Regions from separate parts of the Homo sapiens genome. Here all the other regions are reported to be linked to region 2. The links are microRNA targets in miRTarBase. Many come from high-throughput screens and were not tested one by one. Region 2 holds a microRNA gene; each other region holds the end of a gene's coding sequence.
Evidence for each region. The annotated mature microRNA hsa-miR-4698 reads UCAAAAUGUAGAGGAAGACCCCA and lies in region 2 at 4,088-4,110, opposite strand. An mRNA with a match to its seed (bases 2 to 7 or 8) in the 3' UTR can be bound and repressed. Matches are read on the target gene's strand: a 7mer-m8 pairs with bases 2 to 8, a 7mer-A1 pairs with bases 2 to 7 and ends in A, and an 8mer does both.

Region 1: miRTarBase lists BDP1 as a target of hsa-miR-4698. Seed matches in the 3' UTR shown: 7mer-A1 at 5,941-5,947, 7mer-m8 at 5,855-5,861 and 8mer at 5,792-5,799.
Region 3: miRTarBase lists ZMYM4 as a target of hsa-miR-4698. Seed matches in the 3' UTR shown: 7mer-A1 at 1,735-1,741.
Region 4: miRTarBase lists KCNJ6 as a target of hsa-miR-4698. Seed matches in the 3' UTR shown: 7mer-A1 at 5,465-5,471, 7mer-A1 at 4,871-4,877, 7mer-A1 at 2,582-2,588, 7mer-A1 at 1,899-1,905 and 7mer-A1 at 1,505-1,511.

Annotation. Positions count from the first base shown.
Region 1 is chr5:71,563,823-71,570,945 of GRCh38, reverse strand. BDP1 (BDP1 general transcription factor IIIB subunit) reads right to left here. Exons shown (of 39, transcript NM_018429.3): 39 at 3,126-6,192. The coding sequence ends at 6,061. Among named protein-coding and RNA genes, the nearest start is that of MCCC2, 20 kb to the left of the region's middle.
Region 2 is chr12:47,184,847-47,191,969 of GRCh38, reverse strand. It overlaps MIR4698 (microRNA 4698), which reads right to left and starts at 4,158; the gene lies at 4,079-4,158. The region is part of intron 2 of PCED1B (PC-esterase domain containing 1B); the gene reads right to left.
Region 3 is chr1:35,418,474-35,425,596 of GRCh38, forward strand. ZMYM4 (zinc finger MYM-type containing 4) reads left to right here. Exons shown (of 30, transcript NM_005095.3): 29 at 1-99; 30 at 997-3,585. The coding sequence ends at 1,204. Among named protein-coding and RNA genes, the nearest start is that of ZMYM4-AS1, 56 kb to the left of the region's middle.
Region 4 is chr21:37,618,940-37,626,062 of GRCh38, forward strand. It overlaps KCNJ6 (potassium inwardly rectifying channel subfamily J member 6), which reads right to left. Exons shown (of 4, transcript NM_002240.5): 4 at 1-6,545. The coding sequence ends at 6,220. The region is part of intron 1 of KCNJ6-AS1 (KCNJ6 antisense RNA 1); the gene reads left to right. Among named protein-coding and RNA genes, the nearest start is that of KCNJ6-AS1, 100 kb to the left of the region's middle.

The DNA.
Region 1 (7,123 bases), not on the chromosome of region 2:
ATCTCAGGATATGGAACCTGCTGATAAAGGGGGACTGGCTGTATTTATGTGCATCTTATTCAGACACCCCCTAACCATAACTCCCAAGAGGGCCTGGAGGACACTCTTTTCTTTAAAGTCTTGGTAACAGAAGCATCAGCCTCTTTAAAGAGCTGATGCAGCCACTATGATGGTTGTCCTTTGCAGACTGGAGATGATGGTGAGAGGTACTGCCAAGGAATTAGGCCCCTTGACCTCATTGGGAATACTGGAAGAAGCCAGGCAGCAATGCCGAACTGTTTTAGACCAGGTAGGCACAATTACTGTAATAAGCCATAGCAAAGGATTGACATAGTGTATTTTTACATGTGGGGATCTGTGATGATGGCTAATTGATCCCAAGGTTCCTGTTAGACTGACAGCCTTCTAAAGTGTTGCATGACACCTATAGACAAAACAATTCTAGGTCTGTTGTGCAAGAACCAAACTCAAGTCTCCATAGTGGAGAGAGCCTCATATCCAGTTTCCAGACTAAATAAATCAGGTTATAGACCCAAAGTCCCTTGACTGAGGGGGCAGATGGGAGCCTCTGAGGAAGGATTTTGTAATTGTGGCTTCATGGGTATACCATAAATCTTCCCCCAAGCCTTCTGCAGAGAGAACTATGGTTATTCATCAGGGTCTTTGCACTGGGGAAACAAAAATACTCAGCTATTTCACGGTTATTAAGATAGTGACTCTGAAATTATACTGATTTCCAGAGACCTTAAAAGCCTCTGTGATCCAGTTTTCAGAGTGAAGGCTAATGGAGGTTGCGTGAAAGATGGATTCTTGGTCTGACTTCTCACAGGAGCCCATCCTGTAATTATTTCCTCAGTCCCAGAATACACAGAAGTAGGATATAGCAGAATCATCACACAGTTTCCTTAACCCATGAGATAAGGCATTAAGGAAAGGCCAAGTAGAAGGTTTAAACCACCCCCATTCTCTGACCCACATAGTGAGTGGGATCTGTTGATTCCTACTACATTTCCATTTGATTCACCAGCTTGGCCAGCTGTTCAAGTCAGACAGGTCCGAATGAACAATGTTTCACATTTTTTTGTTTTGTGTGTTGGTGTTGGTGTTACACCTTAGGATCACCTGCAGATTTTTTTTTTAAATGGAGATGTCTGACGCCCACCCCCAGGCACTGCGAGTGTGTGTGTTTTCTAATTATTTTGAGACAGGGTCTCCCTCTTTCACCCACGCTGGAGTACAGTGGCACAATATCAGCGTACTGCAACCTCCACCTCTGGGCTCAAGTGATCCTCCCACCTCAGCCTCTCCAGTAGCTGGGACCACAGGCGCGTGCTAGCACACCTGGCTAATTTTTGCATTTTAGTAGACAAGGGGTTTTGCCATGTTGCCCAGGCTAGTCTCAAACTCCTGGGCTCAAGCGATCCTCCCATCTCGGCCTCCCAAAGTGCTAGGATTACAGGCGTGAGCCACTGTGCCTGGCCCTATTATTTTTTAATGTTTTTTAGCAACAGGGTCTCACTCTGTGACCCAGGCTGGCACGATCATACCTCACTGCAACCCTGAACTCCTGGGCTCAAGCAATCTTCCTGCCTCAGCCTCTCAAGTAGCTGGGACCACAGGCACACACCACCATGTTCTGCTAGTTTTTGCTTTGTTTTGTTTGTAGAGATAAGGTCTCGCTATGTCTCGCCTCAGCCTCCCAAAATGCTGGGATTACAGGCATGAGCCACTGCACCCAGACACTGATTTAACAATAAGGGATACCACTTGGACACAGAAACTTTTTAAAGCTTCCCAGGTGAGTCTGATGTGCAATAAAGTTTGGGAACCACTGGTCTTGGGGAATGACAATAAGTTATCACAGATTTAACAAATGATGTCAATCACAGCTGCAGTTGGCGATTGGTACCTTTATTAGACCAAATCAACACAACTCCTAATACCTGGAATAAAGCTAGTGCCATGAAAAAAATGCAACATTTTCCATTCCAGTAAGAAAAATTAAAAGAACTTGAATTATTGTGGCAGGGACAACTGATTTTACTGTCTTACTTCAGAGTGATATGAATACCCTCATTTTCTTTCATTATATAGTCTGGAGAGACTTTTATTTTCTTGATTTTTGACAAAAAAATGAAATGTGACATGTATAACATTATGCTAACTGGAGCTGGAAAGCACGAATTAGCAAGCAGCTAGATGTCTTAGGAAGACATACATATATAAGAGGTTGGGAGGTAAATACTGTTAAAGTTCAGGAGCCTGCCACATAGGTGAATCTCCTAAGGGTCTAGTGGTCTGAGGACATGGGATCTATTTTTGAAGGGAAGAAACAAGCTACCCAGGCATGACGGCTCACCTACCTGGGAGGATTGCTCGCACCCAGAAGTTCGAGGCTGCAGTGAGCTATGATCACGCCACCACACTCCAGCCTGGGCAACAAAGCGAAACCCCATCTCTTAAACAAAGGCAGTGGGGAGAGGGAGACAAGATTCTGCACCTTGCACTGGTCACCATGAAGACAGAAGCAACAATGTTTGAAGTCGCCCTTTGAGTTTGAGATAAAATATATTTGGGAATACTACCCCAACCTACTTACTGGGTAGCCCGTAAGACTGCCGATTTTTAGTGAAACCCAATGTAAGACAGGGCTCTCCAGCAGATTCAGGATGCGATGCTGCAGCAAACAGAGATGCTGTGTGGAGTCTCTTCCAAATACTATTAGGACAATCACATTGCAGACTCCTACAGCTTTGAAATAACGACATGCACACCTGTCAAAAATTTGTCTCCTCCCCACAAAGACAGGGTCTTCTTCTGTCATCCAGGCTGGAGTGTGGTGGGGCAATCACAGCTCACTGCAGCCTCAACCTCCTCCTGGGCTCAAGCGAACCTCTCATCCCAGCCTCCTGAGTAACTGGGACCAAAAGCACACACCACCACAGTTGGCTGATTTTTAATTTTTTTGTAGAGATGAGGTCTCATTATGTTGCCCAGGCTGGTCTTGAACTCCTGGGCTCAAGCAATCCTCCCACCTCGGCCTCCGAAAGTGCTGGGATTACAGGTGTAAGCCACGATACCCAGCCAATTCTTTATTTAGTCATCTTAAAAGGACACAACAGAAATGATATAAAATAACTTTTATTTACATAATTTATATATATATATAACTGCTTTCTTTAGAACAAGAAAATTTATAAATGACATGATATTGCTTTTTCTGTCAAAGACTTCTTCAAGCAAGATAGTATACATGGTCACTTTTGTTTCAAATAACATGATGGTAAACAGTGGATATTAATATTTTTGTCATGCCTCAACCATTTACCAACAATTAGGCGTTCAAATCCTCATGTTGACCACTTGCTAAGACATAAGTGTTCAGGAGAAAAAGTCAAGAAAAGATAAAAACTTTTACTCATATCTCCTTTAAAATTTGTGAAATAAATCCTTTGCAACATCTTCTTCACATGAATCAGACCTAACATAGTTCTTTCCAACATGTAAGGTAAATACATTGATTAACTTTCTCTTTTCCAAAATTAGGTTTAAGGATTTAACAGTAGGATACTTTAGCTGGCTGACTTGATTCTCTAATACAATGAGTCTCTGTATTCTTTATATAGTAAGAAATTCCATTTTCCATAAAACTAGCTCATTATAGATTAAAAAGAAACAGATGTTAAAGTTAAAAACTAATATTACACAAGGATAAATAATAGTTTAATCATGGCAATCTAACTCCCAAGCTAACACTAAGAGAATGAAATCTTTTCAGAATATGAGTTTTAAAAACTTACAAAAACAGGGTATTCAAATAGCAATGTGATTTACTACCATGATTTCTGTGACATATCAATCATGAAATAAATGCCTACTTATAGACAATTTCCGCTCCGAATTATATAGCCTCCTCTCTGACAAAGTGTTACGCCATAAATTTCACTAAAAGACAATGAATAAGAAGTGCTCTAACAGCAGTAGTTTCAATAAATTAGCATTACTGTTATATGTGCTGAGACATAATTCTCTTCTATTAAGGAACTTAAAAACTGGCCACCATTTTTTCAATATACAAACATAATTATCTAGACTCTAAAATATCTTCCCAACTGAAATACTGATCATTACATAATACAGTCAACAGTTTTAACTTTTAGGCACAACTCATAACTTTAGTGACAAATAACTCATCCATACAGATATCAGCACCTCAGGGTAAGAAAATTTGGGGCCTAATGTAGGGGGTCAAACTAAAAGGCCAATCCAGCCACAGTCCTTCATTCAAGTACTGTCTATGGCTTCTTTCACACTGAAATTGCAGAGCTGAGTAGCTGCCACAGAGACCATCTGGCCTGCAAACCCAAAACAGTTTGCAGAAAGTTTCCAATGCCTGAGCTACTATACTATCAATCCAAGAGGCTTTTCAAATAAAATCAGGATAAATTTGCTGTTTGAGAAGTCTAATTGGAACCACTACAGATCTGCTTGGGTAGATAATAGAATTACACGTATAAAAAATCAAATCTTGAAATTAAAACAAACCTTAAATTCATACTGATGATAATCATTAACTTTATAAAGCCTTATTTTCTCTGTTTTTAACATCATGATTATGTTCCGTGCTTAAAGATCCAAGTGTTCCTTGAGAATTTAATGGGAAAAAACTATGAAGAAATTGGCTTTTTAAAAACTAATATTATGTCTGTGGGTGTATAAAGGAGATTGAGCTTTGTATGGAAATTTTGTCTCATAAATAAAGTTGAGTTCCCCCTATCCTCATGAAAATCCTGAGATTATCCAAGAAAAGCAGAAAAATTTACAGTACAAAGTCAATATACTAAACTGAGGGGAAAAAGGTATTCAAAACATATACACCAGCTAAACATTTTTAGTTATATCATTTTAAATATCTTTAAAATTAAACAGAAAAAGGAGACAAACATAAATTTAATGCCTTCTTTATCTACAATCTGAGGGGTAAAAATAGCTAAAACTGAATATCCTTTTAAATAAAAAATTTAAAAATAAATAAGCCCTTTGATGTGTCATCTTTATAAATAATTATGTTTAAATACTAGTTTTTCAATTAGGACTAATGTTACATCACCATGAATTAGAAAAATATGTATTTTTCAGTCAGACAAACAGCTGATAATAGAAAAGTTCTTTAACATTTGCCATACTAAAGTGAAGTTTGACAATTTGTTTTCACATATAGTCACGTGTCCCTTAACTACATGTTCTAAGAATTGCCTTGTTAGGTGATCTTGTGTGAAACAACGCAGAGTGTACTTACAAACACTGAGATGGTACAGGCTGCTACACACCGTACAGACTGAGGCTATGTGGTATAGCCTATTGCTCCTCGGCTACAAACCTCTACAATGTGTTACTATGCTGAATACTGTAGGCAGTTGTAACACAATAGTAAGTATTTGTGTATCTAAACATATCTAAACATAAAAAAGCAATGCACTGTGTTATGATGGCTATAATGTCACTAGTTGATAGGAATTTATCTCCATTTTAATTGCATGGGACCACTGTAATATATGTGGTCCATCATTGACTTAAACTTCATTATGTGATACATGACTGTACTTAGAAGCAAATGAAAAAGCCTTCATCCTTCATCATCTCCCCCTAAAAATAAAAAATCTTCACAAAAGAAGTTGCTAAATGTTAAATATGATACAATTAACCCCCAAATCTGTCTGCACTGCAATTCATACAGAGACATATATCCACAACATTCCCAAATGTCCATGTGTGCTTAGCACAGGAAGAGTCAAAATGTAAACAAGAGTTGTTATTTCTGTCTGAGAAAGCAGTCTTAATTGCTTGCTATTTGCAAAATGCTGAATCAGTCAGAATGAAAGGAACCTCAGAAATGTTTTCCACTGATTATAAAAGCTTCAAATCAAGCTCATTAAGTATTCAAAATCAACCTAAAGAAAAATAAGACAGTGATATTTTGCTCTAAATACTGTTTTGTTGATGTAATTGACTCTGGAAATCCTAGACCTAATTTAAAAAAGAAAAAGAGAAAAGATTGTTTTATTCTGTTTCATCCACTTCAATGAAGATATCATTGAAGAAATATTCAGAGACTGTGGTTGCCTCCCCTTGAGGGGCCCGCTTTTGGGCACTTTTATATCCTTCTTTCAGTAAGGGCTGATCACAAGAAACCTAAAAAGGTAATAAAAATAAAGTAAAAATAAAACTGTAATACAACATTTATATATATATGTGTGTGTATATATAGCAGTCTAAACCAATATGATCTGTTTGAAAAGCAACGTGGCAATAAATATTGAGCTTTAAATATGTTCACAATCACTGACCCAAAAATTTCACTTCTATGCTGTTACATTAAGTAAATAATCCTAAACATAGTAGGAGTTTTATGACTAAGATAACCTTTGTAGCATTAGTTATAATAATAAAATAGGAAGCAACTAAATATACCACACTAGATATAATTAGGTAAATTACAGTGTACCCATAATCCATTACTTCATCCTAATTTCCATGAAAAATTTTAATAAAGAAAAATATAATATGGTTAAATCTGTCACTAAATAAAGTAAAAATACTTTAATTATTTGCATAATAGACAGACCCATGACAAAACAGCACCTAAAGAAAACATATCAAAGATACCTTATCAGAAATTAGCATACTTACAAATCTATAAACAAATTAAGACAGCATGGTATTGGCACACGAATGACAGATATATCAATGAAACAGAAGACTAGAAATAACCCCAATATATATAGAAATTTAGCATCTGATAAAAGTGCCATATCAAAAACAGTTATTGTATTATTAAATAAATGATGTTGGACAACTATATAACCATCTCAGGGGGAAAAAAGTCAGACCAATACCTTACCAAAACAAATTCTAGATGGATCAAAAGATTTAAATGTAAAAGTATTTTTTAAAAAACTCTACTATAAAAATGCCATGGAAAAACACTTTTATAATTCTGGACGGAGGTAGGTGGGGAAGGGTACCTTTTTATTTATTTATTTATTTTAAGACAAAGCCAGGCTGGAATGCAATGGCATGATCTCAGCCCACTGCAACCTCCACCTCCCGGGTTCAAGCAATT
Region 2 (7,123 bases):
AATCATTTCTGTGGCAAGCGCCATGTTAGGTGCTCCTATAGAGTATCTAAAGAAAATGATGTCTGAGTTAGCTCAAGAAAATGGTAATGGACTCAGATTGGCAAAGAGAAAGGCAGGCAAGTGGTTCTCATCAGAATCACCAGGTCCTTAAAAAAAAAAGCACAACACAACAAAACAAAAAAACCAAAAAAACCCCAAAACTTTTGTGTCCAGGCCGCACCCTCAGCGATTCTGCCTCAATTCCTCAGGGTGAGCAGCCCAGGTGTCCAGCTTTATGAAGGTTCCCAGGGCAATCTATTTTGCAACCTGGGCTGAAAACCTCTGCTTTAGGGCAAAGGCTGGATGATGACTATGCCCAAGTCCTGGGTGGAGAGAGGCAGGCCTGCGGTATTTCTTCTTCCGGATTGCAATGGAAACATGACTTCCCCCAATTTGCCTAGGATGAGAGTAAAGTGAATGCATTGGGTTGTGAACATGTGAACGTTTGCCTGGGGAGGGTCAAGGTGAGGATTTGGGAGAAATAATCTTTTGAGATCTTATAGAACTGCTGAATGCTGACACTGGGGTATAGAATTAGGAAGAAACTTAGAGATTTTAAACAAAAATAGTGGTCTCTGAGGAATTAAATGTATGGAGTCGTAAAGCTGGCAGAAGATAAAGGAGTGAAAAAAGTCTGGAAACAGACAGCTCAGGGCTTTAGGGTCAGTGGTGTCCCTTTGTAAAAACTGCTTCAATTCAACCTCATTTGTAAATGGGCATACTCATAGTAGCCCTGTGTGTCTGTTGGGAAGGTGATGTCACCAAGCCTATATTATAAAAATCGTAAGATGTTCATTTTACTTCTTCCTCTTTCTTTGTCCTTGTCTTCCTCCATGCATGTTTGCTTGCACATAGTCATTTCGTTAGAGGGTAGTCATTAATAAGTGATTAACTTCATATCCTGACCCCCAGGGGCTGTCTGCAAGATTAATGAACTGGTTTTTCTTTTAAAGAACAATGATCCTTAGGTCATGGAGACCTCCTTGATGGCATCCAGAAGTTCGATTGGCTGAGGGACACAAGCAGCTTTCATCATCAGAGAATCTCACCTCCCACATATCTACCTTACTCGTAAAAGCCCCCCAGTTATGTTCAAAGACAGGTGGGGTTTGAGAGGTGCCTCTCGCACCCTCATGCTGTAGCCAATTTGAATAACCTTTCTGTGCTCCTAAGCACTGATGTGTCAGTGTTTGGCTTACTGGCATCAGGTACTCAACCTAAATCTGCAACAGTATGAGATAACATGCAGAGAGCACAGAGTGCCATGCCTGCCACGCAGAAACCAGTAAGCATGAGTTAGTGTTACTATTGTTGTTTGAAAGGATCAAGATTCTGTGTAAATGAGTCACAGGTATCCCAGATGCAGGATTTGCATAGCTGCTATAAAGAGGGTTTCCCACTGAAACTGGTGTAGGCATAAAGAACCCTGTGTTTCTCGTACAAAGGGAATTGAGAGAAACCACTTCATCCTTAACCTGCAGGGAGCTGGAGGAAGAAAGACCTGGAAGAGGCGACCAAAGTGAATGCATGGGTGCCAAAGGTTGGAGACCAGGACAAGGAGGAAGTGGGTTAGAACAGATGGAACTTGGGTGAGGTCTGTATCTATTTTGGAAACTGAAGCCCAGAACTGGGGCCACAATGGGGCAGGCTTTCACTTGCTCCCATTTATGAACCAACCAGCACCATGGGAAGAACGGGGTGGGATAGACTGAGAGACAACTGAATTGTATGCATTTTTGCTTTTTGGCTGATTATTCCAACTCAGGATTACACGAACTAATGCATGTGAAAGCATTTCCTAAATAACAAAACACTATGCAAATAGAGTATTAACATTTTTCTTCTGTGTAGAATTTATACCTAGAGATTCCCTCAAGTGATACTGAAGTAGTTTCTGCACTTCAAGCAGGTGTCTGAGCACAGTGCATAGAGGAGGGTCTGTGGGACTGGGAGTGGCCAAGGGAGGAGCCGAGCAGGGCTGGAAGAGCTGACCCAAGAGGCAGCTCTTCTGTGGATCCCAAGCCTGGAGCAGCAGAAGTTATGCTGAGGTTTTGCCAAACATCCCCAGAGTCTTCTGTTTGGAAGTTTCAAGGATATGCATTTTGTTAGTAGGGTTAGATGAGGTGAAAATGCGAAGCTGGTGATAAACGAAAGTTGTGCTTCAAGAGTTTGGCTCCTAGTCCATGTTTATTAATTGTTTGCTGAAATGAAGACAAGTGTGAGATGGTAATATAACACTAAAGTGTGCTAATAAGTCCATGGTGCTATGCTGAAAGTGCAAATAAGACCTTGCAAGTAAGTCCATGGTGTTTTGGATTTGATGTTAGCGGTAGCAGAAAGCCACTAATATAAGCCTTGAATGGTGTTCAGGGATCTTGTAAACTACTGAAAAGTGAGGAAATAAATGTATGTCCAAGGTCATTCATTTATTTAGCGGCCTTTAAAGAGGAACATTTTCACTGTGAGATAATAGTTGCTGTAGTGACTTATTTAAGCAAGATTACAGGCTCTTCTCTAAACAGGGCTGCACCTCTCCATTCACGGCACAAGAATGCACAATAGACTGGATTTTGAAATCAGTCTGCCTTCTGCTAACCAAGCCATGCACCCTAGTGTAGGGCTGCATCTCCTCAGAGAAAAGGACACATTTTTCCACTTTGCACAAAGGCATCCAATGGGGTAATGGCGGCCCTGTCTTGAACAATCTAAAAACACAATGCATGCTTTTCTGCTTAGACAACTTCTCAGGGTCACTTTCAGACACTGGGCTAAGAACCAATGAAACAAGCAATAAAGCTGAAGAAAAAGAAGATAAAAAACAATCAAAATGTAAGATAGAGGAAATGAAAAAGAACAGCAAAGTGAGCTGAATCATGAACAGCAGGAAATCTCGAGATAAGTGGAGGCTGTCCCTACATATTTCTGGTACTTTGAGTAAACATGGAGAGAAAGTTCACAGTGACCTAATCAGAAGCAGAAATGAAAATGGGGCAAAATGCCATGTGGGGGCATTTTGCAATAAGAAGCAACAGGAGTCTGGCACCTAAATCCAGCAACTGTGTAGCCAGGGTTGGAAAAAGTCCAGGTTACCAGCAACATGCCTGTTTTTTACGGAGAATGAGTGAAATGAATATGCTCCCAATGGTCCTCTGAGTTCTTCACATTCATCCCAACTCCCTTGCTCCTCTGCTCCAGCACTGCAGTGGAACTGGATGGCTACAGCTTACATTGCACGTTTCAATTTGGGCGATGGATGAGAACTTCTGTACTATGTTTGCATCTGCAAGACTCTGCTACTCTTGTTTTTAACTTCTGGATGTTCAGGTACACATTGAAAAAAGGAAGTCCTTAACTCTGAGAAGCAGTATCGTCCTGAAACTACCTAAGAAATGGCTCAAATCCTTTCAATTTCCAAGGAAAGCAAAAGTTACACATTAGAAACTGAGATGACAATACCTAAGCATATAATTTCATTGAGATAGATTAGATTAGCTTCAGGGACATATATGGCTCACAGTATATTCCATGCTTCTCCATAGGCCAGGAAGATTTGCAGCTAACACCCTTCCTGAATTCTTGTCCCTATAGGGCTTTTGTGTGGGACATCATTGATCCCTATGAGTTCCAGCTGAGGAATTTATGACATATTCTATTCCCCCCTGAGATTAGCCTTTAATAATTTATTTATTCATCCAACATTTAAGAGACCCCAATGGTGTTAGATGCTGGGAACCCAAAGACAACTAAGGCAAGATCACTGTCCCCAAAGTCCTTAGTAAGGGGAGATAAGACATGTAATTTTTAAAAGCCACAAAATGCTATGGTGCCATGACAGAGGTATGTCTGGGGAACAGAAGGGACTCCAAGAAGGAAGAGGTGCTTCCAGGTAAGACAAACTGTGGAAATAAAGCAGCTATAGGGCAAAGAACTTGTTGCAGTCAGGAAGATGCAGGTAGATCAGGTGACCAATTACAATCCTGTTCTTGGAGCTGGTAGGATAAAGGACAGACCCAGGTGGAAGAGGCGCAGGTGAAAGTTTTGCTCCTTCTGGGGTCTTCCTCTACATTTTGACCCAGGCCCGTCTAGGTGGAAATGTAGAGGAAGACCCCAGGAGAAGCATAACTTTCCTTTAACCCATATATCACAAGACTTGGCTGCCTTATGATGAAGCTATAGTTCCCAAATATGTCTTCAATGAAGAAAATTTAATGTTTAGGAATTCTAGAACTTGCAGAGTTGGGAGTTGCCTGGGAGATGAAATGTTCTCTCCATCACCTCCAGCCCTTGGTGCTGAGTTCATTAGCATGTTTAGTTCTAATTTTAGCTATGAAAAAATATATTTTAAAATATTGACACATTTATTATTTAGTGCTGGATTTAACTGTTTACACTTTCACTGATAAAAGATTAAAAATATGTCTTACTATATACTGCTGCCTATAGTTAAAACAGCATCCCTGTTTCTCTTTTTCTCTCTTGTTCTCTATTTTTGAAACTGAGTTAATAATCCCCTTGATGTAGAGATGGGGGATTTTCATCAGTACCAGATCATTTCACCTGCCTTTTCTCCTCCCTGAGATTTCCAATTTCCTGGTGCTTCCTTTTCACTACATTTACCACCCATTTCTTGGTTTTAGGTAAGATCCCATGGTCTCTCCCTATGAACACTATCTCTCACATAGTGTCAGCATTTCTAACTTCTTACCCTGGAGCTATCCACCTGGATCTTTCACCTAAACTCCTGAGTGCTTCTGGAGAAGGTAAAGATCTGTTTTGAGATGAATCTCAAACACTGTTAAGTAGGGCAGCATTTCTAAAGTCCACAGAGCAGCACAGTGGTCCACCTTCAAGTGTGATAGGCACTACCCACTACCTCCCCAAGAGCCATTTTCCCTTCTTTCAGTGTGTTCAGGTGGTAAGGAGAGATCTTTGCTTCCAAGGAGAGTGGTCCCCGACTCCAGGATAGGCCTAACCAGTCATGGAAATCTCCTTCCCTTTATCAATTGGTTGTTCTTGGTTTGGGCATTTGACCTTGTTCTGGCCAATAGGATATAAAAAGAAATCAGCTGGAGATATCCTAAGTAAAGACAAGATTTTGTGCTGTGTTAATTTCCTTGGGCTGCCATCACGAAGTATCACAAACTGGGTAGATTACAACAGAAATGTAGTATCTCACAATTCTGAAGGCCCTCAGACTGAAATAAGGTGTCAGCAGGGCCATGCTCCTTCTGAAAGCTGTAGGGGAAAAAACCTTTTCTTGTCTCTTCCTGGCTTCTGATGCTTGCCAATGAAGGGGTTTGGATTATGCCACCCCACAATATGCCACTCTGGCATATGGATTATTTTGACTTGAAGGCAACTGAGAAAAAGCAGACCCAGGATGAGATCTCTGTCCGCCTCCTATCTGCCTGAAAACAGAACATAAGCTCCCCTTGTGAAAGTGCCCCCCTCTACCCCCCTACCAGTAAAGGGATAACATAAAGGGACAACACCTTATCACTGGAGACAAGATGTCATCCAGAGGAATCTACAAAAACAAAACGTATTAACTAGCCCTCATCTACCATAAGTTTCCCCATATATTTGCCTTCCCACAATTTGCTGCCCCTAGAAGCTCAAAGTCATTTTCCTTTGTCTTGCCACTTCTCTACAAAATTATTGTTCTTTGCTCAATTCTATGTAAGTTCAAGTTCTTTTTTTTTTTCTTTTTTTTTAGACGGAGTCTCACTCTGTCACCCAGGCTGGAGTGCAGGGGCGCGATCTTGGCTCACTGCAACCCCTGCCCCCTGGGTTCAAGCAGTTCTCCTGCCTCAGTCTCCTGAGTAGCTGGGATTACAGGGGCGTGCCACCACATCTGGCTAATTTTGTTATTTTTAGTAGAGATGGGGTTTCACCATGTTGGTCAGGCTGGTCTCAAACTCTTGACCTCGTGATCCGCCCACCTTGGCCTCCCAAAGTGCTGGGATTACAGGTGTGAGCCACTGCACCAGACTAAGTTCAAGTTCTAACCACTCCTTTGAATTACTTATTACTGAATACTCCTATGTGTATGTGCAATGCATATTTCAATAAACTTGTTTGTTTTTCTCTTGTTAATCTGTCTTTTGTCAGTCTAATATACAGTCTTTTTTTTTTTTTGAGACTGAGTCTAGCTCTGCTGTTGCCCAAGCTGGAGTAGTAGTACCACGATTTCAGCTCACTGCAACCTCCACCTCCCAGGTTCAAGCAGTTCTGCTGCCTCAGCCTCCTGCATAGTTGGGATTACAGGTGCCTGCCACCAAGCCCAGCTAATCTTTGTATTTTCAGTAGAGATGGGGTTTCAACATGTTGGCCAGGCTGGTCTCGAACTGCTGGCCTTAAGTGATCCACCCCCGTCAGCCTTCCAAAGTGCTGGGATTACAGGTGTGAGCCACCGTGCCGGGCCACTCTAATATGCAGTCTAATTTTCCCTAGCTGGAGAACCTAGGATGGGTACAGAAAAGGTAATTATTTTCCTCTCCTACACCAGCAATACTTGGCATTCCTCGGCTTGCAGCTTCAATACTTCAACTTCTGCCTCCTTCTTCACAGGGCTGTCTTCCCTCTGTGTGTGTCTCTGCCTTCACATAGCGTTCTCTTCTTGTGTCTGTCTCTGTTTTTTCTTTTTGTAAGGACATCAGTTATTGGATTAGGGCCCACCCTGGTTCAATATGACCTCATCTTAACTAATTACATTTGCATTCCAAATAAGGCCACATTTGCAGGTATCTGGGTTAGGATATCAACATATCTTTTTTGGGGACACAGTTCAATCCATATAAAGGCCTTTTGCTCCTGCCTTTCATCTACCTGGAGATGCAGCAACATCTTGTGACTATGAGGCTACAAACATGAGGAAACAAGTTTACAAGCTAAAGCTGGTGGAAAGGAAAGCTAGGGAAAAAGAAGGAGTCTGACAGCATTACTACACAGTTGAACTACTGCCAGCAACCACTCACCTCTAGACCTCTTGCTAGGTAAGAAAAATAACTCCAGGTTACTTAACCTCTGCCAGGTTTCTTTCACCTGTAGCCAAAAACATTCCAATGCATACACAAAACTTTCC
Region 3 (7,123 bases), not on the chromosome of region 2:
TGAAGATGATGAGGTTCCAGTGGGGGTGGAGATGGCAGAGAATACTGACAATCCACTAAGATGCCCAGTCCGACTTTATGAGTTTTACCTGTCAAAATGGTAATCTTTCTCTGAACTGAATGTAGTGCACTCAGAAGGCAGTTAACATATTTTGGATTTCAGATGCTTGAACATCAGAAAAGTAGCTTGCCCGTGGCTTTAGACAAGGATTTACCATGAATTTTTTCCCCATTGTCATATCTATGTGGATTTTGAACCACAAAACAAATTACCTTGTCTTCATAATTATTTTATGAAAATGTCTTCAAAAGCAAGAATCACTGCTATTGTTTGATCTTTACAACTGTTGTACAACCTTTATGTGATACCTAATCTGTAGTTATTTTGTTATTTGTATAGAAAAGAAATTTTGTTTTGCTAAAGCTATAATAGAAAAACAATTTTTAAGGAATTGAAATTTTCTAAGTAGTCCTTTTCTTAGAGGAACTTTATGATTTTAGAGTTGTAACACTTTTTTTTCTGAAAGAAATGTAATAGCTTCATTTGCCCTTTGATAATGTGTATTGAGTGCCCTTGGAGTTCATTCCAGGATATTGGGCACTTCCAATATGTGGTGCTTGGCCATAGTGTCACATGTGAGTTGACTTTTTTGTTGCTCTTAATAATGTTTGAAGTACTAAAGTTTATGATTTACACTTTGTCTTATATTAACTTTATACTCACTTCCAATCCATTGTGATTTCAGTTGATTCCTGGGAGGAAATATTCCTGTAAACTATTTATCTCTGTGGGTACCTTGCTTTCCCCATTGTGAGTCACAGTGGAGAAAGGTTGAGAGCCATATTAGGTTGGTGCAAAAATAATTGCAGTTTTTGCCCTTACTTTTAATTACTTTTAATGGCAAAAACCTCAGTTTACTTAAGAATAGTACATATTTCCTATACTCTCTGATTTCTAATTTTCTTTTTTCTCTTTTTTTTTTTCCCCTGTGGATAGTTCTGAAAGTGTGAAGCAAAGGAATGATGTGTTTTACCTTCAACCTGAGCGCTCCTGTGTCCCGAATAGCCCCATGTGGTACTCCACATTCCCGATAGACCCTGGAACCCTGGACACCATGTTAACACGTATTCTCATGGTGAGGGAGGTACATGAAGAACTTGCCAAAGCCAAATCTGAAGACTCTGATGTTGAATTATCAGATTAAAACGGAAGTGAGGTTCTTATTTTCATACATATTGGTATGCACCAAACTGTGAATGCATCCAGCTGTTGGAAAATGATGTATAAGTCTAAGTCCTCTTGACTTGACCATAAGATCATGGAAAACAGATGACTTGTGAACCCCACAGTGTGGATGTGCAAATGAAAATTGAAGGAAAGAATATGAACTGAGAAATGTTCTTTGGCAGTGATATAGTTCTTAGACATCTTCAGAATGACTAATTTCTCCGAGTGGTGCATAATCTTATTTTGTTTGGGAGTAACAAATCGTGGAATATTTTTAAGGAAAACTGTTGTATAAAACTTTACCATAGTAACCTTAGACCTTAGAGAGGTAGCTTTGGAGTGAAACTTTGGCTGCAATAGGCTACTTTGGCAAGCCCTCCGTAAAAGTCAGAGGAGAGATCAGTACAGAGCTAAGAGTGACATCAAATGAGGACTGTGGGACCCAGATTTGAAGACCCAATAAAAATACTCAACTTTTTAAAAAAGATAGTGAAGTGGTCTTGATTGATTTTGATTTTCACTGCCAAGCCAATCATGTGAAGGACAGAAGCTTTTGCCATGGGCCCCTCACATCAGGGAAAATGACCTTCACTGCTGTTAACAGTAATGTGTCCCTTTCATTTTCTGGATCAAGCCTTCTCAGCGGTGGGTCTGGATGTGGGTAAACTAAGGTAAAGGGGATGATATTCCACAAACTAATTATGCACACAGAAAATCTGTGGAGCCTATCAGACCCCAAGTGTCTTGAAATGTTTGTAGAAACCCACTAAAATGCCCCTTCTCTGGGTGTGGGCCCTTATTGCAGCTGTCTCACAGCCTGAGCTGTGGTACAGAGAAATGGGGGTTCTCCTTTTATTTTCATTTTTTTTCCCCAATGGCAGCTTTTCTCCCGTTGTTTTACCTTCCTATTTCCCAAACAGTTCCTCTTATTTTGTCTTTTGCACCAGTTTCTGGAGGCCCTTGTCATTTCAAAAAGGATAGTCTCTTTTCTTACTCTGGCAAACCTGTGAGTGATTCCACAAAGATACAGTATTACTTAGCTATCTGAATTATGATAGAAAAGGTCCTAGTTAGGTTCCTATATAAAGCATTTGGAAGATGACCTTGTTGCCCTTGAAACTTGAAAATAGGGATTCTGGGGTGAGGATACAAAGACATTGTCTTGCATATCCATAAGCAGGTCTTAGAGCATTATTCCAAACTCTAGCTGTTTCAGTAGTTCTATGAGGATTGCAAGTCATAGGTGTGTGTGGCATATCAGTCCATCTCCCTCATCTCCATTCTCAGTTTCTTCCCCACAAAATTTGGAATCAAAGCTTTTATGACGTTTGCCAATTGCAGAACTTCTTCAGCTAAGGTTAATTTGACGCTATGATAAAACTGAGAGATGTCAAAAAGCCTCTTAGAAATTTTAATCTTGAAAGACTTTTCAGGGTATCTCATTTTTTAGGTGGGGGTGGCAGGTGTATTTCTTTTTTAACAAATAAAAGGCATTTAAGTAAAACTAAAATGAAAAAAGTAGGCCTTCTGACATTGTGTACTTGGTGGTTCTGTCCCTCTGCCTGTAACAAATCTCATTTTTGTTACCAAGAACTGTATGAAAGAAGTAAATCCACCCCGATTCTGTATGATTAATTCCATCTGTGTTTGTCATTTCTGACTGGAAAACTTCTTACTCCATACCTTGTTCGATATGGAGGACAAATAATTGGATTGTCTGATAAGTCTGCCAATAAACTATCCAGAAATAGCAAGTGTAATAGTCCCCACTATACGAATTTTATGGTTTGTATAAACACTAACATTTTCCCCTTCTGTAGTTGTATGAAAAAACAAATATTGTTAGCATAGTAGATAAATTGTTATGAAATACCAGAAAAAAAAATCTGTATCTTTTACTGAGAACACCCAATACCCAGATAAATGACTGTATCAGGATTTCATTTGCATGTTAGTCCACAGAGTTGCCCAGAACCCTAAATTTATTCATAAGAGAAAATATTGATTAATTATTGGTCATTCCTCATAAGTGTAGCTGTTGATGTGTGCGTCTGATTATTGCTTTTTTAATTTTATGAAAATTGTGTAAAATTACATTTTTTTTCCAGGGGAGAAAAAAACATCAAACAAAAACATCTAAATCATCCTTTTTGTTCTTTTTCAGTTTTTAACCACTTTTAGGTTTTCCCCTTACAGAAACCACAGAAATATTCCCTTAGAATAAAATAGTATATTTGTATTTGATGGGTGAGTTCTTCTTCTTTACGTCTTAAAAGAATTTGAAATCTCTTTTTCTGATTGACCTTATTGGTATGACCCAGCAATTAGTAAAATTACAAAGAAAGAGAGCAGTTTCCGAGAAAGAAATTTTTTTTATGTAGTCCAGTCAACATATTTTTTCATTGCAAGTTCTTTTATTTCCTTTTTTCCATCAAAAGACTTGTTCCCATTTTTAGCTAATTTACTGACTATATTCAAAGTCCCAACAGGTAGAAATATCAGAGATCATTTATACATATCATTTCAGGCAAACTTTTTTGAGATTTACAAAGCCTACATCAGTTCAACTTTAATGAAATTGTAAGACTAGAATAAAGGATATGTTCATTCTTAAGTATAAATACATGTTTAAAACAGGAATGTAAGACTAAATAGCATTTTCCTTCGACTTCAGAGTTGTCTTGGTATTATGCAGCTGTACTTTCAAATTCCGTATCGACTTTCTACCTACCTGCCTTGTGGCAATCCTAAATTTATAAAACAGGTTTTCCCAAAAGATCTAATGTAAAATGAATTTCTATTAATGAATTCAGAATTTAATTTTCCAAAGAAGTCTCCTAGGGTATTGAGTTGAAGTTTTAGGAAAGAAGCAATCATACCCTGAACTCCTCTAGACTAGCACTTGTCTGTTACACTGTGCTATCATCATTGAAGAGAATAGTGATTGAGAGGCAATGCTATGTAGTGGAGAGATCATAGGCGTCGAAGCCTAGTGTTTCTACTTACTGGTTGTATAACTTTAGGTAAATTACTTAACCTCAGGCCAGGCACGGTGGCTCACACTTGTAATCCCAGCACTTTGGGAGGTCGAGGCAGGAGGATCATGAGGTCAGGAGATCGAGACCATCCTAGCTAACATGGTGAAACCCTGTCTCTACTAAAAATACAAAAGTTAGCCGGGCGTGGTGGCGGGCGCCTGTAGTCCCAGCTACTCGGGAGGCTGAGGCAGGAGAATGGCGTGAACCCGGGAGGCGGAGCTTACAGTGAGCCGAGATCGTGCCACTGCACTCCAGCCTGGGCAACAGAGCGAGACTCCGTCTCAAAAAAATAAATAAAAAAATAAGTAAATAAAAATTAACCTCTCTGTGCCTCAGTTTTGTTATCTATAAAGTGGGTATAACTCCCTTATTAAGTTGTGCCTGGCACATGGTAGGCTTTCAAATGTCAGATATTTTTTATTACATGCAAATTTCCTGGCCTGTACTAACACATTAAATAAATGTTAATTCCCACACTACAGTCTGAATTTTTACTAAGTATAGCACTTTGGCTTCTGCAAAACATAATACTCTATTTATATAACCAATTCTACATATTTGAATCAAACAAAATTACAAATTCTTCACTTGTGCTTATGTGCATATCAATAGTAATCAACATCACAAGAATCCATTGATATTTTCACTATATTGAAAAATGGGGCTGGGCACGATGGCTCGTGCCTGTGATCCCAGCACTTCGGGAGGCCAAGATGGACAGATCACTTGAGGTCAGGAGCTCGAGACCAGCCTGGCCAACATGGTGAAACCCCATCTCTACTAAAAGTACAAAAATTAGCTGGGCGTGGTGGCAGGTGCCTATAATCCCAGCTGCTTCAGAGGCTGATGCAGGAAAATCACCTGAACCTGGGAGGCGGAGGTTGCAGTGAGCCGAGATCAGGCCACTACACTGTCCAGCCAGGGCAACAGAGTAAGACTGTCTCAAAAAAAAAGAAAAAAGAAAGAAATGGGCATGTATATCAGTATATATAGGAACAGCATATGATAGAGTTTATTAGTTTTTTTCTTTATATTTCTTTTTGTTTGTTTTGAGACACAGTCTCACTGTTGCTCAGGCTGGAGTGCAGCGGTGCGATCTTGGCTCACTACAACTTCCGCCTCCTGGGTTCTAGTGATTCTTCTGCCTCAGCCTCCTAAGTAGCTGGGATTACAGGTGTATGCCACCACACCTGGCTAATTTTTGTATTTTTAGTAGAGACGGGGTTTTGCCATGTTGGCCAGGCTGTTCTCAAACTCCTGACCTCAAGTGATCTGCCCACCTCAGCCTCCCAAGTGTTGGGATTACAGGTGTGAACCACCACGCCTGGCTAATATTTCTTTTTTTCTTTGAGATGGAGTCTCGCTCTGTTGCCTAGGCTGGAGTGCAGTGGCTCGATCTTGGTTCACTGCAACCTCTGCCTCCTGGGTTCAAGTGATTCTCCTGCCTCAGCCTCCTGAGTAGCTGGGACTACAGGTGCACGCCACCATGCCTGGCTAATTTTTGTATTTGATGGGGTTTCACTATGTTGGGCAGGCTGGTCTCGAACTCCTGACCTCAGGTGATCTGCTGCCTGCCTTGGCCTCCCAAAGTGCTGGGATTACAGGCATGAGCCACTACATCTGGCCTATTTATATTTCTTTGCATATGAATGCCAGGTCATAAATTTATTTTTTAATTGGGAGAAAAACCTTAAATCTATGAAACTTCTTTTACTTGGTAGGTTATATATGTCATCAGTTTAGGAACAAGACAACGGTACAACAGCAATCTCCCCACGCTTCACTTCATTAACAGAACTGCTCCTTCCCCAAAAGTTTTAGCTAGGCAGTGGCTCCCTTGGTAAAAAAGTGTATTTTCCAGGCTAACTTGTAGTTAGGAGTGACCATGGGACGAAGTTTTGACCAATGGCATGGAAGCAGATGTGAGTTTACATCTCCCAGGCTACACTCCTAAAAGGAAAATGCATGCTCCTCTCTTGTCTTCCCTTTTTCCTCTGATCTGGAGCATGAACGTGGTCATGGCAAACCAGTTTTGTCCATGTGGGAAAGGGCAGCATACCAGAAGTACATTAACCTCATGGACAGAGCCACCTGTCTCTCCTGGTCTGCCTACTAGCTCAGACCTTCACATAAGAGAGGAACTTTCATCTTATTTAAAGCCTTTTTTTTTCCTCTTCATTAAAGTAGCCAAACCAGTATCCTAACGAATACACCGGTAATGCCCACTGTCACATTACCACTAAACGGAACTGGAACTTCTCATCACAACAAAAAAGGTTATCAATATTGCAAGGTGAGAAAACACATTTGTTGTTGTTGTGTTTTGTTTTTGTTTTTTTGTTTTGTTTTGAGATGGAGTTTCGCTCTTGTTGCCCAGGCTGGAGTGCAGCGGCGCGATCTCCGCTCACTGCAACCTCCATCTCTCAGGTTCAAGCGATTCTCCTGCCTCAGCCTTTCAAGTAGCTGGGACTACAGGCATGTGCCACCACGCCTGGCTAATTTTGTATGTTTAGTAGAGGCGGGTTTAACCATGTCGGCCAGGCTGGTCTCAAACTCCTGACCTCAGGTAATCCTCCTGCCTCAGCCTCCCAAAGTGCTGGGATTACAGGCGCGAGCCACCACACCCCGCCAACAAACTCTTAAATAAGTTTGGCCGGCCACGGTGGCTCACACCTGTAATCCCAGCACATTGGGAGACCGAGGCAGGCGGATCACGAGGTCAAGAGTTTGAGACCAGCCTGACCAACATGGTGAAACTCCATCTTAACTAAAAATACAAAAATTAGCTGGGCGTGGTGGCAGGCGCCTGTAGTCCCAGCTACTCGGGGAGGCTGAGGCAGGAGAATGGTGTGAACCCA
Region 4 (7,123 bases), not on the chromosome of region 2:
TTGAACTTTGAGATTTGTTTCCTCCCACTTAGTTGTTTCCTCCCACTCTTCCATGCAGTTGAAGGGTCACAAGCTTTTTGCATGATCTATATTGTAGATACCATTACCTACTTAGTTTCAGACGCAGGATCAAATCCATCCTTTATCTGTCGACAATATAACAACATCACAATGATTTGTTACATTGTTACTTTTTTTTCTTTCTCATCTGATTTCCAGGAAAGCACTCATAAGAGAACTTGATATGTTTTTCCATAGAACTAAAAAGATAAGGAACCTAGCTTGGCTGACTACCTCTGGCATTAGAAATGCTTCCTTAGAAGACAAGGGAGTTCAGCTTAGTGACACAAAGAATGCCATTTAATATTGACTCATCTAAAAACCCCAAGGTCTGGACTTTTTCCATCCATTATGTCTGTAATTACCAATCTTTGTCTTTGCTTCAGACTCAGAAAGCGCAAGAAATCCAACAACCCTTTACTATACTTCCGTGTCTCCCTGAGCTCTTTTCAAAGGACCTTTTGGTTTTCCATAAGAAGCATTTAGTTCTTTAATTACACATTAAACTTCTAGCTTAGTGGCTAGAGAGAGCAAAAACTAGCGCAATTAAACATGAGCTAGTTCCAGGTTCACGTTCATCACCTTGATCAGTTGTAAACTGTAGGCTAGAGAAAACTAGCAAGAAAACAGAGGGAGACATCTGGGCCACCTATTTAACTCTCCTCCAAGAGAGCCTAAGAGAGAAGCCATGTGGAGGAGCGAGGCGGGTTTGATGTGTGGCAACCACTGCAGGTCTGGGCTGCTTTGCTGAGCAGAGACTGGCAGCCTGAGCTATGTACATCATCCAACGCCTGAGGGTGCCACTGAAGCAATATTTCAGCGGCTGGGCTGGGAATGCCCATTTCTCTGTAGTTCATTAAGGAGTAATTTTACTGTATCCACTTTCTGAGTTGACCGCTAGATCCTGGCTGGCTGTTGACTCTATTTGCCACTCTGGAGGAATGGCATGAAAAGGAAGGATTCTTCCTTTGAGACCCTAACTGAATGACTGGGCTCTCTAAGTCTTGTGAAGCAGTTGTCTCTTTGACAACCGAAAAAAAAGAGTTATGTTATTTTGAACAGACTTATGAGTGACTTCAATAATTTATGCTAGAAAAAAAGTCATTCTTCTATATTGCCTAGGACTCTCTTAAGAGTACAGTACAATATTTCATAGTACTTAGTACTCTTACATACTATTATTAATAGTACTATTACTAGTACTTAATAGTACCAATAGTACTTAACAGTACAGTACAGGGGTCAGCAAACTTTTTTTATACAGGGCCAGATAGTAAATATTTCAATCTTTGCTGGCCACACGGTCTCTGTTGTAATTACTCAGCTCTGTGAGTGCATGTGGAAGCAGCCATAGGCAATACACAGACAAATGGCTGTGGCTGTGTTCCAATAAAACTTTGTTTGTGGACATTGAAATTTGAATTTAGGATGATTTTCACATGTCTCAAAATATTCTTCTTTTCTTTTTTTTCCCCCAATTATTAAAAAATGTAAAAATTGCTCTTAGCTCACAAGTGGTACAATAACAGGCAGCAGGCCAGATTTTTTTTTTTTTAGCAGATTTGGTTTGCTGAAATTTTTTGTAGTAAAAATAGCCCACAGCTTAGGGCCCTGTGACCTGGATTTGAGACAAGGAGCTATGATTCACTGGCCTTTAAACTTGGCCAATTTGCCCAAACCCTAGTTTTCCCTCTATAAAATGTAAATTATAATACTCAACCTCTCATGGTGAATTAGAATGAAATAAGATAATTTGTACAAGTGCTCTTAATGCTCTCAAACACCACACCATGTTGGGTAAAATATTGTTGGGTTATTATTATATATTCTGTGATTTATCAAAATCTCTTAGCAGCCTTCTGACAGAATTTTGACTTCTAGATGACACTCTGCATCTAAAGCACTCAAGACATTAAAGGCAGAAATATTAGGAAGAGGCGTGCTTTACTCAATTTTAAATTAAAGGCTAACATTTTCTTAGATACCGGTTGGCCATAAAGTTCAGAAACAAGATAATGTTATTTTAGTGTATTGTAAAGTAATATCAATGAATCATCTATTATGTATATGTTACCTATGTTTTTCAATGTTAAAGCCATCCATTGAAAGGAAATCATCCTTGAAGATAATGTTTACAATATATAGAGGACACTGAACTTTCAACTACCTTCCTGACATTTTTAAATCATACAGAGTATCACCCAAGTCAAGGAAAGAAAGACTGAAGAGTAGCCAGACTATTAGCAAACTGTTTTGGAAATGATTTACTATGAGTATTTTAATTGTATTCTCTCAGCAAATCAAATGATTTCCCATTCTTCTGGTGAGTTCAGGTAGTTTTCTAATAGCATTCTTATGCCCCCTTTCTCTGTCCACCAGTTCCCACCTTTGTAAGCAGTTTCTAAATATCCCAAAGACACTGGCTTAAATCTAAATAAAAAAGCAAAGGGGAAAAAAGTAAGAAAACTGAAATGTAAGAAAATGTAGGGATGGAAAGCATAAGAATGTTGCTCTGGAGAATTCAAAATTTAGACTATTAAATGAAGTCATGAATAATTTTTAAATTGGAGTGCAGTGAAAAATAGACATTTCAGAGCCCTAGCTTGGTTAGACCTGCAAGAGAAAATTGTGCTTAAGAAATAGGTTGACATTTGCAGCTGGATTTCTGTTAGGGAACATAAGGTACTGAACTAAAACAATAGAATTGGAACTGGAGAACCAGGGAAACAGCAAAGGATGGGGATAGATGGAAGAACGGAGTGGGGGAAGAGAGAGTTCTGCCTCATGGACATAGAGGGGATATATGCTGGAACAACCAGGCTGGAAGGCCATGTTTGAAGGAACAGAAAAGTTGACATTTGCTATGTTAATGTAAAAGAGTATAGCTTACCCAGGGGACAGCTAAAACAGAAATGATTTTATTGGTTCCATAAAGTTGATTTATAAATGAATGGGTGCTCTTCCAGTTGGAGAGCACGTTGGGGTGGGTGGAGGTGAGAATCCGAGGAACTCAGCAGCCTTGTGGTGGGGGGTCATGCTTGCAGCTGAACCTGCCCTTCCATCCAGGAGCACTTTGTTCTGTCAAATTGGGGTCAACTGTGGCAAACCATAACCCTTAAATTCCAAATTCTTATCTGGCTCACGGATCCCACCATGCTTTATGGAAAAATGACTCAAATACATTAACCAAACAGACCAAAGGATCTAGTTGAGAGTGATCTTCATTAGTTATGGATACTGTTGTATTAAAAGAGACTTTTAAAAAATTCTCATTGCACTTGGTTTGCTAATGGAGTGACTGAGGGAATGAGGACTGGATATTGCGGAATAGAATGAGTGGAAATTGTGGGGTCAATTTTGTTGAGCTGTCTTAATGGAAAACACCATTCACTCACTACTCGCTGCTTAGAAAATCAGTCTCAATGAACTTTCAGTTCCAAATTTTAACAGTTGACACAAAATACACTGTTAAACTGTGTTAACAACTGTAGAAAAATAGACATGTTTGATAGGGACATTCTAGTAAAAGGTTCTTCAGGAGCATCCCCATGTAAAGATTCAGAGGCTCACATTACAAAAACGAGATTTGGTTCAAGTTCTGTCTCCAACTACATTGACAACAAAGACAGTGAGAAACAGGGAGAGACCTCACATCTGGGTGCCCGTCACAGACACAGAACTGACAGGTGCACGTGGCCAACGTGTTGTCAAGGCTCTTCGTTCAGTTGTGCTAAAGGGCAGGCAAGCAGGGATGAGGCCCTGAGCTGCTTGCTCTTCCAACCAGACACGGGGGTGTGCGCTGTCCTTTAAACCTTAGCAATGGAATTAAAAAGGCCCAGTGAGTCTTCAAGAGCTAAATTAGAAGACATTTTGCCGCCCCTATTCCATCTTGTTTTGTGCCTGCCATGGCCTGCCCTGCGACCCTGGCAAGGTTGCAGGGGAGCTCCCCAAGCCAAGAGTGCCCTTCATTAGGCTGCAGAGAGGTCAAGCCATGGCTCCTCCCCGCAGCCTCAAGGGGAGTGTATCGAGCTTCCTCCTCCCGGACCACCACCTCCTTCTTAGAGTGTGCGAAATAAAGAAATGATTCAACAGAGATTCAATGCAAAAAAGGAAATGCTGGCAAACAGGAAAGGGCTATAGCCAACAGTTTTGTTTTCCTTAAAGTCAGTGCCAAGAGGCAGTTGTCCTGATCCAAGGTCTCTGAGATGGGAGAAGAGAGGCCCCGAGGTTATATTTAGGAGCCACTTTCCTTATCCTGGGACTTCTTTTTTAGTAGACAAGGTCCCCAGACTACACCAAAGGCCTGTGCGATCAGGTCAGGGAAGGCAAGGGAAACAAAGAGGGACAGCTAGTTTGATCTCTTTGACCTCCATGGTGCAGAGCCTCAAACTGAGCACAGCTGTAGGAGCTGAAAATAAACTTGGATCCATTCAATGAATATTTATGATGGGCAACTGTGTTAAAGAACAAACAGCTTATAAATGCAAAGTGAATGTGAAAGATCTGTAACAGTGCAAAATCTCCACCTGCCCCGGAGGTTTGATCTAAGATTTGTTTCCTTATTTTTTTCATTTTAAAATTCAGATTTCCAGTACAAATACCCTTCCTTCCTTCCTTCCTTCCTCCCTCCCTTCCTCCCTTCTTTCCTTTTTGCAGATTAAAGTGAATTAAGGCTGGAATTTTTTTATTTGTTTTCTTTTGATTGACAGACACTGGATTTGATTTCTAGCCTGTGGCATACTCTAGAGACATTTCTTAGACAATCATCAAGATTGTTGATCTAATCTTTGAATACTGAACTCTGGTCATTTCAAAATAATAAAAGATCACAATGCAAGAAATGCTGATGGATAAGCCCCAGGGACAGGCGAGATGTCATTCTCAGAAAGCCAGATAGAGTCAAAGTGAGAGGTCGATGATTATAATGCATGCCACTCACTACATGCCTTTGTGAATTTCACGGCTTTAGACCCAAACCATCTTCTGCTAACTTACCATGTCTCATTGTAAGAGTGTAGAGAAACTACAGCTGGAGAATCAATGGTTTTGCAGAAAAGTTTCCTAAATTATTGTACTACAAAGGGCAAGAGCTCATGTGAAAAGTAAAAACATACCTTTGGTGACAGGCTAGAGAATATTTCCTTCCTGGTATTCCCCCTCCTCCAGGCCAGTTAGTGAGGCCCTTGTTATCTTTTAAAAAAAGACATCTGTTTTGTAACATTTCACAGTATATCAGCATATTGGTGGTGGGTTTTGCCATCTACCAGACCTCTCAATTTCCCCCAGACCTATGGCTTGTTGGATTCAATGAAAGGATCCGTGTGGGAACAGTGAGGTACCCTAACGTCTGCCAGTCTGAGACACAAACAAAGGCCATGCACTGAAGGGCCAGCCGTCAACTGGATCAAAATAACCTGGAAAACACAGACATCAAAACAGAAATGCCTACTGCATGTTAGGAATCTTTCTTTCTTTCTTTTTTTTTTTGCTTCTTATTTCTAAAGTTATATATCTAAACCTACATTAATGATACATCTATGTACAGTATTTAGCAGTTCTGTTCTATGGTACTTTTGTACATGCTGGGTTTTATTACTAATTACAAAAAGAAAATAATTACATAAGGCATATATATGTACAGTGGTTTGTCTTCAGCTCACCTGGGCCCTGTAACTGCCACACCCACATGGGGGCAAGCACCTCACCCTGTAGTAGATGAAATGAATTGGGATCCATAAAACTGAGGGCTCCACTCTGTGTCTCACTGAATGAATAAATAGGCACCAGAAACCTTGCTTGTCATATCCCAGGTAAAATCTTTGACACACCTTTTTGAGTGATCTGGTATTGTACAACACATGCAGGTAAGTAACTGAAATCTCCAGGAGTTGGATGTGTAGTATTTTGGGAGGAGACCAGGCTTGGGCCACAAATGAGGGCACTTTGCACTTTCATCAAATCCATGTCTACCTTGTCAATCTGAATAACTGAGAGAGGGCAGGTAGATATTTTACACCTTGAAGATTTGTTTTCTGGTCATGTAAAAATTAAATATAAACAAATAAAGAACAAAGCAAGAGAGACAGAAAAAGAAAGAGAATGAGAGACAAGGAAAGATTGTGTTGGGGGGAGAAGAGAAGGGTTTGCCCAGCTAGGGCACTAAACTTTGGATTCATTCTCCAGGTTTGCCACATCACCATTTCTTTCTGTTTGCTCTTCGAGGTTCTTTTCTTCCTCTTCAGTCTCCAGTTCTGCATGTTGGTTGAGTTTGCTGGATACAGACCAACTCAGGGGCAGCTCTGCCCTGCTGGCTAACTCGGCCAGCTCTTTGGCACTAAGGGATGGGGTGCTGGTCTCATAGGTCTCATGGAAGCTGTTGTAGTCAACTTCGTAGAACCCGTCCTCCAGGGTCAGGACAGGTGTGAACCGGTAACCCCACAGGATCTCACTGGTGATGTAGGAGCTTCGAGCTTGGCATGTCATCCCTGCAGAGAGAAGAATGGAGGCTTTAGCATATGTAAGTGTGGGCTTTCCATGGCCAAGGAGTCACAGAGAGCCAGGAGGAGTACTGCATGCAGCTGTTGAGACTGACCTGCATACGATGCCACACTTAGTAGGTGTCATTCATGTTGTAGACACATGCTAATGTGCCATGGAGATTCCAGGCCTCTTAAGGGAGTCCTGGGGAACAATGAGAGAGTCCTGGCCCACATCAAGCCACATTTGCCTGCATGGCCATGCACATGCAAAGGAAATCAAGTGTGCAAATGCACACAAGTTTTCGCATGTGCATGGCTATGTCTGGTCCACTCTGCTCTGGGAGAACCCTGAAGCCATGACTCTGGCCTCCTACTGCTCTTGGAGGTTTAGCCTGGGTTCTAATGGGATTTGAGCTCTTTGGCCACAGACTTAGAATGAAATTTCATATATGGAACTACACTTAGGCTGCTTTTAAGCTAGAGGCCACAGATCAGTGTTACCCTCCCACCTGCCATTAACACACAGGCCATGACTGTGGCTCCAGATGCAGTTGGAAGGGTCACCCACCTGAATTTGCACTTTA